Regions from separate parts of the Homo sapiens genome. Here all the other regions are linked to region 3. The links come from fine-mapping of genetic effects on plasma protein levels. A gene starts in region 3. Each other region holds a variant in brackets. All regions are shown on one strand. Distances are between the middles of the regions. Region 1 overlaps FASN (fatty acid synthase). Region 2 overlaps ASPSCR1 (ASPSCR1 tether for SLC2A4, UBX domain containing). Region 3 holds the start of ASPSCR1 (ASPSCR1 tether for SLC2A4, UBX domain containing).

The links. PIP is the posterior inclusion probability: the model's chance that the variant is causal. The UK Biobank Pharma Proteomics Project read protein levels with antibody pairs (Olink). The fine-mapping took linkage between variants from a reference panel, not from the people measured, so its PIPs are less certain.
Region 1: its variant is fine-mapped to the plasma level of the ASPSCR1 protein (UK Biobank, PIP above 0.99).
Region 2: its variant is fine-mapped to the plasma level of the ASPSCR1 protein (UK Biobank, PIP above 0.99). The variant lies in the coding sequence of ASPSCR1. If it changes the protein, the assay may bind it differently, which can mimic a change of level.

The regions. Positions count from the first base shown.
Region 1 is chr17:82,091,296-82,094,040 of GRCh38, reverse strand. It overlaps FASN (fatty acid synthase), which reads left to right. Exons shown (of 43, transcript NM_004104.5): 4 at 270-443; 5 at 622-822; 6 at 1,022-1,144; 7 at 1,229-1,344; 8 at 1,452-1,586; 9 at 2,357-2,745. Among named protein-coding and RNA genes, the nearest start is that of SNORD134, 2.5 kb to the right of the region's middle. The variant G/A (reference allele first, on the strand shown) is at 1,497.
Region 2 is chr17:81,995,135-81,997,879 of GRCh38, reverse strand. ASPSCR1 (ASPSCR1 tether for SLC2A4, UBX domain containing) reads right to left here. Exons shown (of 16, transcript NM_024083.4): 6 at 1,815-1,888; 7 at 1,034-1,460. Among named protein-coding and RNA genes, the nearest start is that of ASPSCR1, 19 kb to the right of the region's middle. The variant A/T (reference allele first, on the strand shown) is at 1,212.
Region 3 is chr17:81,975,882-81,978,604 of GRCh38, reverse strand. ASPSCR1 (ASPSCR1 tether for SLC2A4, UBX domain containing) reads right to left here and starts at 976. Exons shown (of 16, transcript NM_024083.4): 1 at 857-976. The coding sequence starts at 958. It overlaps LOC124904087 (a long non-coding RNA gene), which reads right to left. Exons shown (of 2, transcript XR_007065951.1): 2 at 2,270-2,494. LOC105371939 (a long non-coding RNA gene) reads left to right here and starts at 1,120. Exons shown (of 2, transcript XR_933953.4): 1 at 1,120-1,237; 2 at 1,648-2,637. RefSeq lists a silencer at 481-1,340 and enhancers at 819-1,590, 1,591-2,364.

The DNA of each region.
Region 1 (2,745 bases), 120 kb before region 3:
CCGCCTGCCCCCTCCGCCTCGTTCCCTCTGTGACCTGGTTCCTGTTCCAGGCCTCACCTGGGCTGGCTGCTGGCCACAGGCTCTGTTCTGGCCCCTCTGCAGGACACCTCACCCTCCTTAGGCCCCTTCCAGGGTCCCACTGGGATGGACCCCCCCTCACCCCAAGCCAGTGAGGCCAAGATGGGACCTTCGCCCCAGAGCCGGGTGGGTGGGTGGGCTGGCTGCGCTGTGGGGCCCGGCCGTGGCACCTTGACCACTGTTTGTGGCAGGCATCAACCCAGATTCACTCCGAGGAACACACACTGGCGTCTGGGTGGGCGTGAGCGGCTCTGAGACCTCGGAGGCCCTGAGCCGAGACCCCGAGACACTCGTGGGCTACAGCATGGTGGGCTGCCAGCGAGCGATGATGGCCAACCGGCTCTCCTTCTTCTTCGACTTCAGAGGTGGGTCCTGCCCAGCCTCCTGCGGAGGTGGGTGGCCTTCAGGTCCCCACATGCTGAGCAGAAACCACGTGGCGTGGGCTCACTCCGTGCAGTGTGTGTCCAGCCTGGTGGCAGGAGGTGTGCTCAGGGGTCTCGTGTGCTCACAGCCCCACCTGAGCCGCAGCACCCTTCCTTGCAGGGCCCAGCATCGCACTGGACACAGCCTGCTCCTCCAGCCTGATGGCCCTGCAGAACGCCTACCAGGCCATCCACAGCGGGCAGTGCCCTGCCGCCATCGTGGGGGGCATCAATGTCCTGCTGAAGCCCAACACCTCCGTGCAGTTCTTGAGGCTGGGGATGCTCAGCCCCGAGGGCACCTGCAAGGCCTTCGACACAGCGGGTGAGTGTGCGGCTGCGCGGCCAGGGCAGGCGGGACAGTGGCACAGGACGGCCCCCCGCACAGTCCCCACGCTGAGCAGGATCCTGCCAGCTCCGGGGATCCCCCACCCAAGCACCCACCCCACACCCCAGAGCTCCTCCTGGTGGGGTGGGGGCCGGCGTGGGGCTGAGCCCCGGGCCTGAGGTGCTGCTCTACCCAGGGAATGGGTACTGCCGCTCGGAGGGTGTGGTGGCCGTCCTGCTGACCAAGAAGTCCCTGGCCCGGCGGGTGTACGCCACCATCCTGAACGCCGGCACCAATACAGATGGCTTCAAGGAGCAAGGTGGGCTCTGCCGGGGTTCCGGGGTGCTGGGGGGCAGGTGGGAGCCGGGGCTGGGGCTGCAGCACTGAGCCGAGCCCTCCGCAGGCGTGACCTTCCCCTCAGGGGATATCCAGGAGCAGCTCATCCGCTCGTTGTACCAGTCGGCCGGAGTGGCCCCTGAGTCATTTGAATACATCGAAGCCCACGGCACAGGCACCAAGGTGATGCCCCCCCCCCCCGCCCCACTCACCACCCCATGAGCCTAACCTACGCCCATGCCTGGAGAGGTGACCTGGCCAGAGCCCCTCACCCCCCATGTTTCCCACAGGTGGGCGACCCCCAGGAGCTGAATGGCATCACCCGAGCCCTGTGC[G/A]CCACCCGCCAGGAGCCGCTGCTCATCGGCTCCACCAAGTCCAACATGGGGCACCCGGAGCCAGCCTCGGGGCTGGCAGCCCTGGCCAAGGTAGGTGGGGCTGGGCTTGGGGGTCCCTCAGGCTCCTGCTCCCTGGGACTGGGTTGCGCCATGGCTGGGCACTGCTGCTTTCTCTTTGCCAAGTGGAGGCGGGGGCTTCCCCACCAGGAGCCTCTGTCCCCCGGGCTATGCTGCAGGTCTGAGCAGAGGCACTGAGGCTGACAGCAGGGAGAGCTCGTAGCCAGGCTCGCTGGGCCTTCCCTGGAGGCCTGATGCCCTGCAGAGCGTCTGCCGGACACGGAGCCGAGCTGGAGGAGCCGCTTGGGTGGGAAGAGCGAGGCAGGAGCAGGCCTGGGGGGGTCCACGGCACCATCAGGGTCTCCCGTGTCGCCCACCCGTCCCTACAGCTTCCTGACCCACTAGCAGAGGCCTGGGGACCTTTAGAGAGACCAGGCACAGGAGCCCCAACACCCATGATCACTCACGCCCTCTGCCCCCCAACTTCTGCAGCCTCTGAGATGCAACATCTGGGCCAAGGGGGCCTTAGTGTTCAGGCCACAGCCAGGCTTTGGTGGGTCCACATCAGGCTGGGAGGCAGCAAGGCCGGAAGGGGAGGTCTTGGACCAAGCTGAGGGCAGGGCCATGGCGGCTCAGTCCTCGGACCCCTGTGCCATGGCAGAATTAGGTTGGGGACAGGAAGTGCATCGGAGAGGGCCCTGGAACCCTGGCCCCACATGAGAGTCTCGGGGAGGTGCCTGCCCCCAGCTCAGGCAGTGGTAGAGGGAGTGGGGCGGCTGCCCATCCACCACGTACCCCCGCAGGTGCTGCTGTCCCTGGAGCACGGGCTCTGGGCCCCCAACCTGCACTTCCATAGCCCCAACCCTGAGATCCCAGCGCTGTTGGATGGGCGGCTGCAGGTGGTGGACCAGCCCCTGCCCGTCCGTGGCGGCAACGTGGGCATCAACTCCTTTGGCTTCGGGGGCTCCAACGTGCACATCATCCTGAGGCCCAACACGCAGCCGCCCCCCGCACCCGCCCCACATGCCACCCTGCCCCGTCTGCTGCGGGCCAGCGGACGCACCCCTGAGGCCGTGCAGAAGCTGCTGGAGCAGGGCCTCCGGCACAGCCAGGACCTGGCTTTCCTGAGCATGCTGAACGACATCGCGGCTGTCCCCGCCACCGCCATGCCCTTCCGTGGCTACGCTGTGCT
Region 2 (2,745 bases), 19 kb before region 3:
ACTCCAGCCTGGGCGACAGAAGCAAAACTCCATCTCAAAAAAAAAAAAAAAGTGGGTGCCTCAGTAAAGGTGGTTTAAAACCAGAAAAAAGAGCTGGGCGCGGTGGCTCACGCCTGTAATCCCAGCACTTTGGGAGGCCGAGGTGGGTGGATCACAAGGTCAAGAGATTGAGACCATCCTGGACAACATGGTAAAACCCTGTCTCTACTAAAAATACAAAAAAATTAGCTGGGCTTGGTGGTGCGCGCTTGTAGTCCCAGCTACTCGGGAGGCTGAGGCAGGAGTAATCACTTGAACTTGGGTGGCAGAGGCTGCAGTGAGCCGAGATCGCGCCACTGTACGCCCACCTAGGGACACAGTGAGACTCTGTCTCAAAAAAAAAAAAAAAAAAACCCAGAAAAAAAAAAATCATTTGCCTGAGAAGCTAAGAACAAGCCCAGTGACCCTGCTCAGGTAGGAGGTGGGGCTTGATTCCAGACCAGATTGAAGACTGGCTGATGCGTTCACCAGCTCCCCCTTCCCTGGCCATAACCCGGAAGTTACCACCCCTTTTCTAGAGATTTCTGAATGCCCCACCCCTTAACGTGCATGTAGTTGAGTGGATGTAAATGTGACCACGGCCATGCCCTGAGCTGCTGCCCTCCATGCACCACCCCAGGGCGGCCCTGCTCTGTGCCACACATCACGGAGCCAACACGGAGCTGACACAGTTGCCGCCTTGTCATGGAGCCAACACGGCCTCATCCCGGAGCCCACACGGCCTCATCCCGGAGCGGACACGGCCTCATCCCGGAGCAGACACAGCCACCGTCTCAGTAAAGCTACTTTCTCTACCACCTGCTTACCCCTAAATTCCTTCCTGGGCGAAGTCAGAAGGCTCCTGTCCAGAGCCCCGCGTTTGGGTTCCTCTGCGCGTTTGGGTTCCTCTGCCCGCATCACGGCCACGCCACCAGGCTGACCAGCTAAAGCCACGCAGGGCTACACATCAGGAGAAAGGACACCCCCAAGTCCCAAGGCCTAGAGCCCCTTTTACCCGCTCCCGCTCCTGCTCCTGCTGGGGATCCCGCTCCCGCTCCTGCTCCTGCTCCTGCTGGGGATCCTGGCCCGACTTGGACTTCTTTGGCTTGGAGGGGCCTCCAGGGCTGGAGAGGGACTTCGGCAACTTAGCTGAAGATGATGTCAGAGGCCTCGTGGGCCCAGGAGGGCCCCCC[A/T]GTCTCTGTCCCCCACCCGAGAAAGGAACAAAGGGGGCAGCTGCGGGTGCCCTTGTGCTCTGCTTCTCCTGAGTGTGCTCGCAGCAGGGCCCTGAGGTGTCCGCGTCCTCCGGACGGCTCAAGTCGCCGCGGCTGAGCTCCCCAGATTCCAAGGGAAGTGGAGCGCTGGCGGCTGCCTGGCCAGCCGACGCTGACGAGCCCAGGCTTCCTGGGGTCTTGCCCACGGGGTCGTAGCACTTCATGACAAACCTGAGTGGGGCCAGAGGACAAGGGAAGCACCTTGTGGTGCCTACCCCCGGCTCACCCTCTCCCGGCCCAGGCTCACCCTCTCCCGCCCCCGGCTCACCCTCTCCCGCCCCCGGTTCACCCTCTCCTGCCCCATGCGCCCTCCCAAGATCCACCGCCCCTCTGGGGGACACAGAGATGAGGTCGGGGCAGCCCAGCCCCCACGCCCACAGGCAGGCAGAGGCCACCAGGCGCTCTCCATGATGAGGGCCTGGGTACACCTACTCCCCACTTGCCACGTGTCCTTTCTCCTTTCCTTTGAGACCACTTTTTTTTTTAGCTAAATAGACTCCTCGGCCCCAGCAGCACTGCCCTTACCTGATGGTGGCGCTGCCCCCGGTCAGGCCCAGCGACTGCAGCGTCGTGCCCCGCAGGGCAGCTTCACCCGTCACCTGCAGGAGGAGCAGCCAGGACAGGTGCGCCTTGCACCGGGACCCCAGAGCCCAGGGAAGCCCTCCGGGCACCGGCACCACCAGGACCACAGGCCACGTGCCCTCTCTGGCCTCCATCCTACCCACCCCCCACATCTGGCCCCTGCCGGTCCACACCCTCCACAAGGCCCAGCTTGAGTCTGGTCTGCAGCCGGGGCAGGACCTGCTGCCCATGCCTGACCGTGTCTCCCCCAGCCTGGTCTCCGCAGCTGGGACCCAAGCTCACTGAGGCCTGGGCTGGCAGAGCTGGGCTGCAAGGAGGAAGCCCTGGTGCCAGGACCCACTGCCCGGAGCGAGAGAGGCAGGAACGTGCTGTCACCCACGGGGGTGGCCATTCCTGGTGCTCAGCTCGGGGTGGGCAGGGATCGGGCCTGGCTGGCCACGTCCCATACGCTAACTCTGACCTGTGAGGAAGGGGTGGAGAAGCTGCCTCTAGCGAGGGCACAGTCAATGGCCCAGCACAAAAGCCAAAGGGTGTAAGGGTCCCTGAGGGCCACAGCCTCAGGACAGTGCTGGGCCTGGGTCCTGAGCCCCGTGGCTCATCCCCTCAAGGGAGGACGTAGACCTGAACCTCCCCGTCACAGCCCCAGCCAGGGAGCTTCCAAATGGGGATAAATGCGGGGAATGTCCTGGCCCCCCAGGGCCCCTCCGGGCCAGTGCCCCCCCACCCCAGCAAAGGGCACTCAGCCAGCGTGGAAACAAAAGGCCCCTGTGAGGCCAGGGACGAGCGCTAGGAGGGTCCCGCCACGGCGGGCTTTGCTTGCGCCACGCCACACTCGGTTTTGAAAATGATCAAAACACCGAGCAAAGCAAATATT
Region 3 (2,723 bases):
TCCGAGTCGTGTGCACCTTCGGATCCTCACGGTCCCCCACGCAGCAGAGGCTCAATAAATACTTTTTTTTTTTTTTTTTGATATGGAGTCTCGCTCTGTCTCCCAGGCTGGAGTGCAGTAGCGCGATCTCGGCTCACTGCAAGCTCTGCCTCCCAGGTTCACGCCATTCTCCTGCCTCAGCCTCCCGAGTAGCTGGGACTACAGGCGCCCGCCACCACGCCCGGCTAAATTTTTTTGTATTTTTTTAGTACAGACGGGGTTTCACCGTTTTAGCCAGGATGGTCTTGATCTCTTGACCTCGTGATCCACCCGCCTCGGCATCCCACAGTGCTGGGATTTACAGGCGTGAGCCACCGCGCCCAGCCAATACTTTTACATTTAATTGATTCGCGGTCACAAGGTGCCCAAGTAAAAGTGCAGTGAGTGACTCGGCAAAAATCGCTTCCAGGCCCCACGGCCGGGACATCTGCCACCGCGCAACCCGGGCTCCCGCTCCGGGGGACGCCCCGGAATGGGAACGCGGGTCTAGGGCTCCACTCCTCCCTCTTCCCGGCGCCCTCGCGAGCTGGGCTCGGCCGGGCGCCGAGTACTCGATGCGGGTGACACGCGGCGCCGTTCTACCTCACCCCTGGGAAGGCTCGCCACCGCCCCGCCCCCACTCGGGACCCCCGGGACCCCCGGGACCCCAGCGGAAGCGCAGGTGACGGCGAGCAGGGGGCGGGGCCGCCGCTCAGGAGGCCGCTCATTGGCCGCCGAGGCCCCGCCCCCGAACACCGGGACGCCGACCGCAATGGGCGGGGCCTCGGCGCAGCGCCCCCCGCCCGCCTACCCGTCCGCCCCGGGCGGGCGGCCGCACCTGAAGCAGCACGGTGCTCGGCGTCACCTTCACCGTGTGGCGCCGGCCGTTCGGGGCCAGCACCGACACCGCGGAGCCTCCGCCGCCTGCCGGGGCCGCCATTTTCCGCTCACGTGACCCGCCGCCGGGCCGGCGTCAAACAACTTTATCGGCAACAGCCAGGACGCGCAGCCACGCGGCCAGGGGGCGGGGCCGCAGCGCACTTCCGGGTCCTGCCAGGCCCCGCCCTTTCCCCACCCACGGCGCCCCGGCCCCGCCCTTGGGCCGCCAAAGCCCGCGCCAGACCCGGAAAGCGCGGTCGTCCTCTGCCTCCGGGAAGCGCGGCTTGGATGGGCTCGCCGGGGCCAGGCTGGGCCGGGGCTGGGCGCGCGGTCACCCCCGGTGAGCGGCACTGAGCCCCGGGGTCCCAGCGGTCCGCGCTCGCCCACCCTCGCTTCGTCCCTGACACGTCCCCAGCTCGGTGCCCTGCTCTCCCCCGACCCTCCCGGCTTCCTCCACTCCAGCAGCTGAGCCTCTTCCCTGCCCACCTGTCCCTGTGGTCAGCGTCCACCTCCTGACCTTATGGTTTGGGGCAGTCCCCCCGCCCCTGTACGGATCCTCCCTGGGTGTTGGGACTCGTGGCCCTCAGTCTAGACCTGATTTCTTTCATCCTAAAATGGGAGTGCAGAATCTGGCAGCCCTAGGGCTGCCGCGACGGTCCCTAAACCTGAGGGTAGGAAAGGCGGGAGACCGGTTTCAGAACCGTGGGGTGAGCGAACTTGAGTCTCACCGGAGCTCCTGCCGACCCACAGGCACTCAAGGACTTCCCGCACCAACCCATGCTGAGGAGGGGCTTGGTGGCAGCCTCAGGAAACACTCCCATCGCCAGCCACCGCAGCAGGGAAAGCACCTGGCCTCACCAGCTCCAGGCTTCCAGAAGGAGCTGCCCTCCTGACTCGCAGCCGTCGAATGTGCTTAGCTCCCAGCACCTGGGCCACTCATGGACAGCACTCGCACGTGTTCCGCCCCGCCCCCCACCTCCATGGCTCAGCCGGGCCTTGGCACTCCTCTCTCCATGTGCCTGCCTGTCTCTGCGGACTCCTGGCTAGGGCTCAGCTGCCCAGTAGCCTGTGGAAGGGGGAACTGGTGCAGTTATCAGTCAATCCTCCCACAGGGCTGGGATTACACACGTGAGCCACCGCACCCGGCAGTCATTGCTGAGTCTAAGGACATCTCTGCATGGGTGCTGTTGTGCCTTCCTGTCGATGACATATCCATGTCACCCACACACACCTGTATGCTGACAAACACGGACATCTATGTACATTGGAGAAACCTGGGGAAAGCCCCAGGCTAGCCATAGCCCTCCCATCCAGCCAGCCAGTCCCATGCTCTGTGCAACCTCAGAACCTTACTGAGCCACACATCACCTGGTGGGTTTTAATTCTTTAGTGGCGTTTTTGAAGAGTCTGTTCCTATTTTCCTTAGACTGTCCCACAGTCTGGATCCTTGGTTAAACGTTTGGGGCAATGATGAAGGGAGGTGACAAGTCAGCAGGAGGTGCAGGACATCAGCGTGGCCATGAGTGAGGACGTGAAGTTGAACCACTTGGTCAGCTTTGGGTCTGCTGAATTCCTCCATGGTCAAGGTCCGTGGCTCCTTGTGGAGTAATTAAGGCATGCGTGAGGTCATTCTCTGAGACCACAAGCATCAAGTTTTCCCAATAACCATTTGCCCAACAGTTTTAGCATCAGTTAATGAGTAGATTCAGTGTTAAACCGTAAAGCTGCAAAATCATGGCTTCCCAAGTTTATTGTTTCTTCTACATTTATAGTCACTTTCGGTCAAGCTTCCCCTTCTTTAAAAAGTTATTAAATATTTGGGAGGC